2 separate regions of the Homo sapiens genome follow, and region 1 is linked to region 2. A link means that fine-mapping ties the variant in region 2 to the expression of a gene that starts in the linked region. Tissue or cell type: whole blood. Region 2 holds a variant in brackets; the other region holds the start of a gene. All regions are shown on one strand. Distances are from middle to middle.

Evidence for each region. PIP is the estimated chance that this variant, and not a neighbour inherited with it, causes the effect.
Region 1: it holds the start of KRT77, and the variant in region 2 is fine-mapped to the expression of KRT77 in whole blood (INTERVAL, PIP 0.98).

Annotation. Positions count from the first base shown.
Region 1 is chr12:52,701,461-52,706,304 of GRCh38, reverse strand. KRT77 (keratin 77) reads left to right here and starts at 2,781. Exons shown (of 9, transcript NM_175078.3): 1 at 2,781-3,413. The coding sequence starts at 2,871. RefSeq lists an enhancer at 4,539-4,708.
Region 2 is chr12:52,746,184-52,751,027 of GRCh38, reverse strand. It overlaps the pseudogene BTBD10P1. Among named protein-coding and RNA genes, the nearest start is that of KRT76, 29 kb to the left of the region's middle. The variant GGATCAT/T (reference allele first, on the strand shown) is at 2,875.

The DNA of each region.
Region 1 (4,844 bases), 45 kb after region 2:
CTTGTTTAGTGATTCCAGTGCTCTGCTTTTTTCTCCCCACATGACTTATATATAGCTTTGAATCCTTGAGAAATAGACACTTTGGTTCCTTAAGTGTCTGAGAGGCTCTAGGTTCCTTAAGTGTCTGAGGCTCTAGACACAACCAGCAAGCAGCAGAGCTTCTGCCTATAAATTTCAGGCTCATTGTCTCCTCTATCACACAGTGTCTCCTGGATGACCCACTGAACAGATACCATGTACGGAATGCAGAGGTTCATGAGAAGAGGGTGTGGAAGCTTGGAATTGCCCTTGGAGCATTTCCCTGTACCAGGATGACTTTTCACTGCGGCGCCCCCACAGTGCTCTTGTTTCTACCACCTGTTCTTCCCCACCTCTATTGGGATTTCTGCCACAACTTTCTTTTTTTTTTTGAGGTGGAGTTTCACTCTTGTTGCCCAGGCTAGAGTGCAATGGTGCAATCTCGGCTCACCACAACCTCTGCCTCTTGGGTTCAAGTGATTCTACTGCCTCAGCCTCCCAAGTGGCTGGGATTACAGATGTGCCACCATGCCCGGCTAATTTTTTGTATTTTTAGTAGAGATGGCATTCTCCATGTTGGTCAGGCTGGTCTCGAACTCCTAACCTCAGGTGATCCGCCTGCCTTGGCTTCCAAAAGTGCTGGGATTAAAGGCGTGAGCAAAAAATATTTATTGCAATGAACATAAAGAAAAAGGACATTTAAAACACCAGGAAAATTCAGCCGGGCACAGTAGCTCACGCCTGTAATCCCAGCACTTTGGGAGGCTGAGGCAGGTGGATCACCTGAGGTCAGGAGTTCTAGACCAGGCTGGCCAATATGGTGAAACCCTGTCTTTATTAAAAATACAAAAAATTAGCCAGGCGTGGTGGTAGGCACCTGCAATCCCAGTTACTCAGGAGGCTGAGACAGGAGAATCGCTTGAACCCAGGAGGCAGAGGTTGCAGCGAGCCAAGATTGTGCCACTGCACTCCAGCCAGGGCAACAGTGCAAGACTCTGTCTCAAAAAAATAAGCAAACAAACAAAAGAACCTAGGAAAACTCCTCCCACAGTCTCTAAATAAATCAACTCACTTTCTAGTTACTCACAAAGTCTGTCTTATCTGCATTTTTTTTTTTTTTTTTGAGAGAGGGTCTCATTCTCTTGCCCAGGCTGGAGTGCAGTGGCACGATAAGGGCTCACTGCAGCCTTGACCTCCCAGGCTCAAGTGATCCTCCTACCTCAGCCCCCCTGACCCGTGGGAGCTGGGACTACAGGAGTGTGCTACCACACCTGGTTAATTTTTTGTATTTTCAGTAGAGATGGGGTTTCGCCATATTGGCCAGGCTGGTTTTGAACTCCTGGGCTCAAGTGATCTGCTTGCCTTGGCCTCCCACAGTGCTGGGATTACAGGAGTGAGCTATTGCACCCGGCCTTCTGCATTCTTAATTCTTATGAGTTCACAGCGCAGACTCCATCATGTAGTCTGCCCTTTCCCTTTAATATGGTACATAGTATCACAAGTGGTTGCCGGTTCTGCTGCAGAGTCTCCAACAAGATGATTTAAAATAATTGTATCCAATTGGGCAAGCCATCGCTTAGCCATTTTTCTAAGGCTGGAGAGTTTTTCCCCAAGTTAAAAAAATTATTATTACATTTTGGATGAAAGCCACAGCTATTTGAGTCCAGAGGGAAAACGCACATTTTTTTGTTGGCGGACACTGATGCTCACTGAATGAGCTTTTCCCCAGGATGCTGTCTGGGACGTGCTTCTCAGAGGGTGAGCACAGATTAGTGCTGGTCTACCGTGCTTTGCTATTGCCTTGTGGTAAGCACAGAATTTGAGAGTAACCATTTAGAAAATTATTATTATTGTTGCTATTTTTAGCAGTTAAACAATGTTTTGTTTGCTGAATCTAAAAATAAAAAAAATTTGGGCTTGCATTTTGTATATCTTTTTTAAAAAATTATCTTTAGGAGGTAATTCCTTTAATTCTATTTTACAAAAGTATTGTCTATAAAGAACCGGAAATGATAAAACAGAAAGAGAGATAGTTAGGGATGGTTTGTCTTCTGGTCTAGAAGACAATATTAGGTACTGGTAGATGCTCAACAAATCTATAACCACAGACTTTTGGTGCTGAAGTACCTTGTGTGGTTTTGTGTTTGAGAAGTCTGAGGCTTATCAAGCAGCACACAATGTGAATGACCTTGGGCAGAATCTGTGGGCCTCCACTTGTACTCAGTGACCACAATATTGCACTTCCATGTGATAAAATTTTGGGTGCTCATGGTGATGATAACTGCAGGGAGCAGAAGCAGTGTGTGGGGAGATTGGAACAAAACTTTTGCCCCACCAGGACGATGCTGTGACAGAAAGTGTTTCCACCTCTGTCCCAGCTATGGTCCTGAGGTCTCTAAACACCATCTAACTTTGCCCCAGATCTCCCAGGCACATCCCAGAAACAAACAACTCGATGGTGGAGTTTCTTAGGAAGAGATGAACTGATGATTTGGGGAGAATCTGTATAGAAGTTTCCAGCAATGAGATCCTGAGAGATTCTTGCATTCTGATCTCTAAATGGCAAGAGATGAATGATAAATGATCGAGTTGGGGAAGTTTGTCTGCAATCTGATTTCTGCAACTCACAGGTGTGAGGTTTTAAACAGATGTTGCTGGCAGGCAAACTAAACATTAATACTCCCCTTTCAGGATTGTAAAGGTGCCCAGCCCAGTAATGTGTGTGTGTGTGTATATATATAGAGCCGGAGCCAGATCTTTTCAAAGGAGTCAGAGCTCCTTTCCTCTCTGGTCTCTGCCTCCTTCCTGCCAGGCTCTTTCTCTTGCCTGCTTCTCTGGATGCTCCAGCAAACATGAGCCACCAATTTAGTTCTCAGTCCGCGTTTAGTTCAATGAGCAGGCGGGTTTATAGTACCAGCTCTTCTGCAGGCTCTGGTGGTGGGAGTCCGGCAGTGGGTTCTGTGTGTTATGCTCGAGGGAGGTGTGGTGGTGGTGGATATGGGATCCATGGAAGGGGGTTTGGCTCTAGGAGCCTCTACAATCTGGGTGGCAGTAGAAGCATCTCCATTAATCTAATGGGGAGGAGCACCAGTGGTTTCTGCCAGGGTGGGGGAGTAGGGGGATTTGGAGGGGGCAGAGGCTTTGGGGTTGGCAGCACCGGGGCTGGTGGCTTTGGAGGAGGTGGTTTTGGGGGTGCTGGATTTGGGACTAGCAATTTTGGGCTTGGGGGCTTTGGTCCTTATTGTCCTCCTGGGGGCATCCAAGAGGTGACCATTAACCAGAGCCTCCTAGAGCCACTTCACCTGGAGGTGGACCCTGAAATTCAGAGGATCAAGACCCAGGAGCGGGAGCAGATTATGGTTCTCAACAACAAGTTTGCCTCCTTCATTGACAAGGTGAGCACCTCAGGGGCAGGGAGGGTCATTGGTCACTGACCAAATGACTGAGAGAGATTACACCTTACCACCTCTCACCACATCGTGCTGTTTCAGCTTGACCTGGGACCTTAGAAAATCATTTACCCATTTGGGCTTCAATTTGTCTTCTTGCAGGGATTTAATTCCATCTTTTCCTTTTGGCAGGAAAGGAGATAAGCAGTGTTAAAATACTCAACAGATACATGGTGTAGTACCCTCATTCTCATTCATAATTATTCACTTTCCATCCACCCATCCACCCATGCACCCATCTATCCATCCCCATCCACACAATCCATTTATACACACACACACAAACACACACACACACACACACACACACATCCATCCATTCACTTATTCATCAATCCACCCAACTATCCACCCTTCCGTCCATCCATCCATCCACCCACCCATCCACACAATCCATTTATACACACACACACACACATGCACACACACACACGTGTTCATCTGTTCATTCACTCATCCATCAATCCATTCAACTATCCACTCATGCATCCATCCACCCATCTAGCCCACAAATATTTTCTAAGAATCTATGATAGGCCAGACATCGTGCCAGGTGCTACAGGTGACTAGGACACAGGTCCTGCCATCAAGGAGCCCACGTCTAAAGGGGAGAGAATTACTACAGTGTATGTGAAGTGTGTCAATAGGGGTAGTACTCTCTGGGCCATGGTAGCTCAAAGGAGGGTGTCATGAGCTCTGCTTGCTGAGTCTGGAAGGCGGATGAAAAGTTAAATGGGTTCTAATTTTAGTATATGTGCTGCCGAAGTGAGCACGAGTTAAATGGGTTCTCAGGGCAGAGGGGATTTTCAGGCAGAAGGACCAGGAGGCATGAAAGCGTGACGCGTTTAGGGAATTTCAAACAGTTACAATTCCTGGAGAAAATGGGATACCAAGGGGTGGAGGAGAGAAGTGGAGATGAAGCCACAGAGCCAGGGCAGGAGAAGCAGGCAGGGCATGGTGAATGCCCTGGTGGTGGGTATCTCTTGGGGCTAAAGTCAATAGCATGCAATGTAGGGTTCTGTCTGAGTTTCCCCTTTTGGCTCATCAAGGGCCAAGGATGGGCCAGATGGAGACACAGAAGCCCCTGTCCCTAGTTCCCTGTTGAAACTTCAGATTAGGTCCAAAGCAGCAGCAGAGGCTGGAGAACTCGCCATGGTGAAGACCTCCCTCCAGCATCTCCTTTTGTCTGGAGGTCGAGGCACAGCGGCCACTAGCACCTCCCCAGGAGGAACTTTGCCTTCAGGGATGCAGTGGGAAGCCCCACAGAGCACCAAGGCCGCTTGCACACTCAGTGACTTTCCCTCAGTCCCCACGGGAGTTCAGTGCTGAGGCCAGAGCTTGACCTGTGGCCTGACTGCAGGGTAGCTGTGGCTAGAG
Region 2 (4,844 bases):
GTCTCTTGTTACTTTCCTTTCTCTTCACTAAGATTTAGTTTTCTCTTTTTTCTTTCGTTTTTTTTCAAGGTGGTTGTAAATTTGGTCAGAAACATTAAAACAATGGAATTTTATTTTGACGAAAAATTGAAGTTTATAATCATTTAGTAAATGAAGAGCAAACACTTCATTTTCCTATCCCATAACTCTTGAGAAAAAAAAAGCATAAGTAAATAAATATCTGTGAACAGATTAAGGGTAAGGCAGACTGGATAATAAACCACCTCTGACATTCACACTCTCTGCATATGACTCACTCTAAAGGGTGAAACAGCCCTGGAGATAACTGAACTGATAAGATATGAGCATTAAATCTCATCCAGATCATTCGGGTACGTCCAAGATAAATACTTTTTGCTCATCAAGGGCAGCAAACTATACAAATTTTACTGGAGGAATACTTTGACAGAAGCACTTAAATTATATTGTGCATCACAACTATAAAATGGCTTGAACATTTCCATTTAACCACCATCTATAAAGTGCAACTCTATAATACTCTGCATTTTATCTGGGGTGTGGTGAATATCAATCCAAACTGAAAGTACCCCAGCTGCCAATTTCCACCACTTTTGAAAAGACCTAGATGTGTGAAAAAGGACAGTCTGCCATACAAAGAACAAATTTCACAAACCTACTGGTAAACAAATACATTTATATAACTGGAACTTCAAAATCCTAGAGTTGTACTCATTTAAAAAAACCATTCAGCTACCTTTGGTCTTGAAAAAGCCTACACTGCAACATCCTAAGCATTGTTATGTGCATCTCAATGAAGAAGAGTGGCCTTGCATTGCAGAATGAGGAGAGTACAAGGTCACTGTGAAGAGTAGCATGTTATGGTTTCAAGGAACATCAGCATTACAGCACTGGATTCTGTGCATCAGGATCGGATCAAGGCCACCGTTGCCAGAAGGCAGATGGATAGGGAGAATATCCAGCTCATCCACTTGTGGAGTTGGGTGCATGACTACCAGCTGGTCCTGGGGAATGTCTGCCACAGCTGCTGCAAGGTTGGTGATAGATTTACTCTTTACACACTGAAAGTCTACATGCCGACTCTTTCCTTCCTCCTTCTCCCAGGACATTCAAATAAAGGGTCTTTGGACATAGTTGTAGATAACTTCTGGGTGGCCTCCAGGCCTTTTCTTTACTTTTTCTTTGTAGGTAGGATAACCTTCTATTCCCAATCTAATCTTCTTAAGACCCCTCTCCTTCAAAACTGACTTGGCCACATCTCTGTTTTCAATGTACTTGAAAAATCTATATAATTTTGTGCTATAAATAATTTGTGAATATTCTTGTGCTATAAATAATTTGTGAATATCCATCTGTGGTGGATATTCTTCATCCCAATCAACCACATCATCATCTGTAAGTACCACTATATGACATTCCCGTTCCCCACTCCGGGCACTAGCTACCATGAGAGGGAGGATCATTTCTTCCAGATAAAATTCAAATTGTCTATGAGCACCATCATTTGATAACTCATGCATTAGGGCACTGAGATCTCTACATTTAACAGTACTATATTCAAAAGAGATACAAAGACAGTCACATGCTTCTCTCACTTCAGGAATAGATATGCCATCAGGACAATGGATTATTCCTGTTTTATAGTAATCCGGAATAGCTCAAAACACAGTGGAACCAATCCCCTCTGCCACCTCATACTCTTCTTTCTTATTGGGTCGTGTAAAGTTATGTTCTCGGCCAGATCCAAACATCTTGCCCAACATTGTATTTGGCTGTGCAGTAAAAATGGATGGGTCTACAACAAATCTAGTGTTATCCACTATTAGTGTCACTCGTTCTGACATTCTTATATTGAGCTCCTTCTTTTGCATTTTCATATACAAACACCATCTCCCCAGATGTCTTACAGCTACCACCTGAACTTGACTGACTACTGTTTCTGCTGCTGTTCCCAGCACTGCTAATGGAACCAATTGGGGATGCTTTTTGAGGACGCAGACTGCTTGGACGAGAGGAACTGCAGTCTTTTTCTTGTTCAACATGGTGCTGTCGTGTTGGAGAAGTCACATTTCTAATACAAGGAGTGAGTTGAGACTCTGTTCTTTCATGAGATGAATCTCGTGATCTGTCACTTGACCTTCGTCTATCTCTTGATCTCTTATGTCCCCCACTAGCATCACGTAGACTCATTTTGGTGTGGTCGACTCCTTTAGCAGTACGCGAGGAAGTACTTCAAACCTTTGAATCCCACGGTTTCCCCTTGACTTCCTGTCACGGTTAGAGAAAAGCAGACAGCGTTTCAGTCACAGAGTTGGAGAAATACCGCAGGGACTACTCAGGGAAAGCATTTTCCTCATCAAAGCAAACTCCAAAATCGCTTCTGCCGGTGTGGACCAACTGGAACTGATGAGAGTTGGTCGTCTTGAGGGACACACTCTGTTCCCTAGCATCCCCTGCTGCTTATTTTTAAATGCTCGGTTGGCGGGAACCCGTGTGCCAGCTGAAACTCCTTCAGTTTGGCCACCTAGGAAACATCCAGAGTCACCTGCATGGGCTGTCTGGGCAATAAAAACAGATTTAGTTTTTTCGACCTCATAACATTCCTGAGCCAATGGATGGTCGGTTCAGGGCATCCTAGAGAGATGGTTACAACTGCCCAGTGGTGTGCCCCTCTGTGCTTGTAGGAGTATAACCAGGCCTGTCGCAATCCAGTGATATGTCTGTGGTCCTATCTGTGGATAATAACTGGCACCTGGACCTCAACAGCATCATTGCCAAGGTCAAGGCCTAGTATGAGGAGATGGCTTAGAAGAGCAAGGCCAAGGCCCAGACCCTGTACCAGACCAAGGTAAATAA[GGATCAT/T]TGGATCAATCTGGACCCCACCAGCCTTTTCCAGGGCTTCTGAACTTTACCTCCAGCCTTTCTGGCACCATCCCAGAGAATACATATTTTATTCACTAGGAAACCTATTGAAATTTCTTTCACAAATTTCCATAACTTGCAGAATCTTTTTTTTTTTTTTGAGATGGAGTCTCACTCACTCTGTTGCCCAGGCTGGACTGCAGTGGCACAATCTCGGCTCACTGCAACCTCTCTGCCTCCTAGTTTCAAGCGATTCTCCTGCCTCAGCCTCCTGAGTAGCTGGGATTATAGGCTTGCACCTGTATGCCCAGATAATTTTTGTGTTTTTAGTAGAGACAGCATTTCACCATATTGGCTAGGCTGGTCTTGAACTTTTGACCCCAAGTGATCTACCCGCCCTGGTCTCCCAAGTATCTGGAATTACAGGTGTCAGCCACTGTGCCCAGCCCCATAAACTTGTAGAGTCCTTATAGTGCTTTTCATTTGACTACCCGATATCTTTAAGGGCAACTGTGAGTTTCAGTTAAGTGATTCTTTCCACTCTACGTGCCTGGTGGGCTTTATGTGAATTAGGACTTTCTGGATTGATTCTATTGCCCTTTTCATACACATGTTTCAGGGTCAGGGATAATCTTTCCCTACCTGCTCTCTCTGTTCACCCAGCTGTAGCCTGGGGAGCTGTAGACCACAGCCAGAAGACATGATGATGACTTGAGGAGCACCAAAAATGAGATTGCGGAGCTCAGCAGGATGATCCACAGGCTGCAGGCAGAGATTGAGAACATCAACAAGCAGGTGGGGGCAGTTCCTCAAAGCCCAGGATTATGGCTCTGATGAAAGTGGTGTCCTGGGATGCCAGAGGAGCCACCTGGACCTAGCAGGTAGGGCAGCTTTTCAGACTCCTGATTGGGACCTTTTGCAACTGGGCTTGCCAAGTGGTACCACATAGAACAAGGACTTTACGCTGTCTTAACTTACATCCATCAACTTAAAGGCAGAATGATCTTCTCTCAATCTGGTAGACATGGTCCCCAAAACTTCATAAACTATGTGGCATTGAGTTTCTGGGATCTCAGAACATGGATTATTCCTTCCCAAGAGGTGGGAAGCAGGTGACCACTATCTCTGGGTAAAGGCTCGACAATCATTGGAGTTTCCCAGTATGGTTTATTTTATATGGATGTGAATGCTATGAGCAGAAGTTAGCATCACCAGCCACATAGCACACAGATTAAAGATTTTCACTAACGGGAAAGATGGAGACCTGTGTTCACCTGCTACATATGCAGTTGGATCCAGGGACTCAGTGCACTTCCTCCTCCTGCTTCGGAATGCTAACCTGGAGGTGGCAATTGCTGACACTGAGCAGCATGGAGCAGGGGGCGATGCTGACCCTCAAGGATGCCCAGGCCAAGTTGGCAGAGCTCAGAGATGCCCTGCAGCAGGCCAGGGAGGACCAGGCTCATCTTCCGTGTGACTACCAAGAGCTGCTGAACATCAAGCTGGGCTGGATGTGGAGACCGCCACCTACCAGAAGATGTTGGAGGGCGAGGAGTACGGCAGCGTAGGCACTCTCTGGTCAAGGCACAGAACCCAACTTGAGAAACCCATTTCACAGGATTATGTGGTCCTTTGGTTAGCTATACTGTGTTACAGTGATTTTTGTCTCTGCATTTCCTTCCCCTTGGTATACGGAGGCTCTAACACAGTGGCAGGGGACAAAGGAAGGGCTCAACAAGTGCTCGATGAAGTGGACTGTACTGCTCAGCACTCTCTCTTTGGGCTCAGAGATACAACTTTTATAATATTTGCTAGAGCAGAACACTAAGAGCCTGCCTCCTAATAGACATATAGTGCACCGAAAGGCAAATGTCAGTGAATCCTGGTGTGGTGGAGAATACAAAGATGAGTACCAGGTAGTCCTAACAGCCTGCTGTCCCTACACTTTAAGCTGGAGTTTCCAT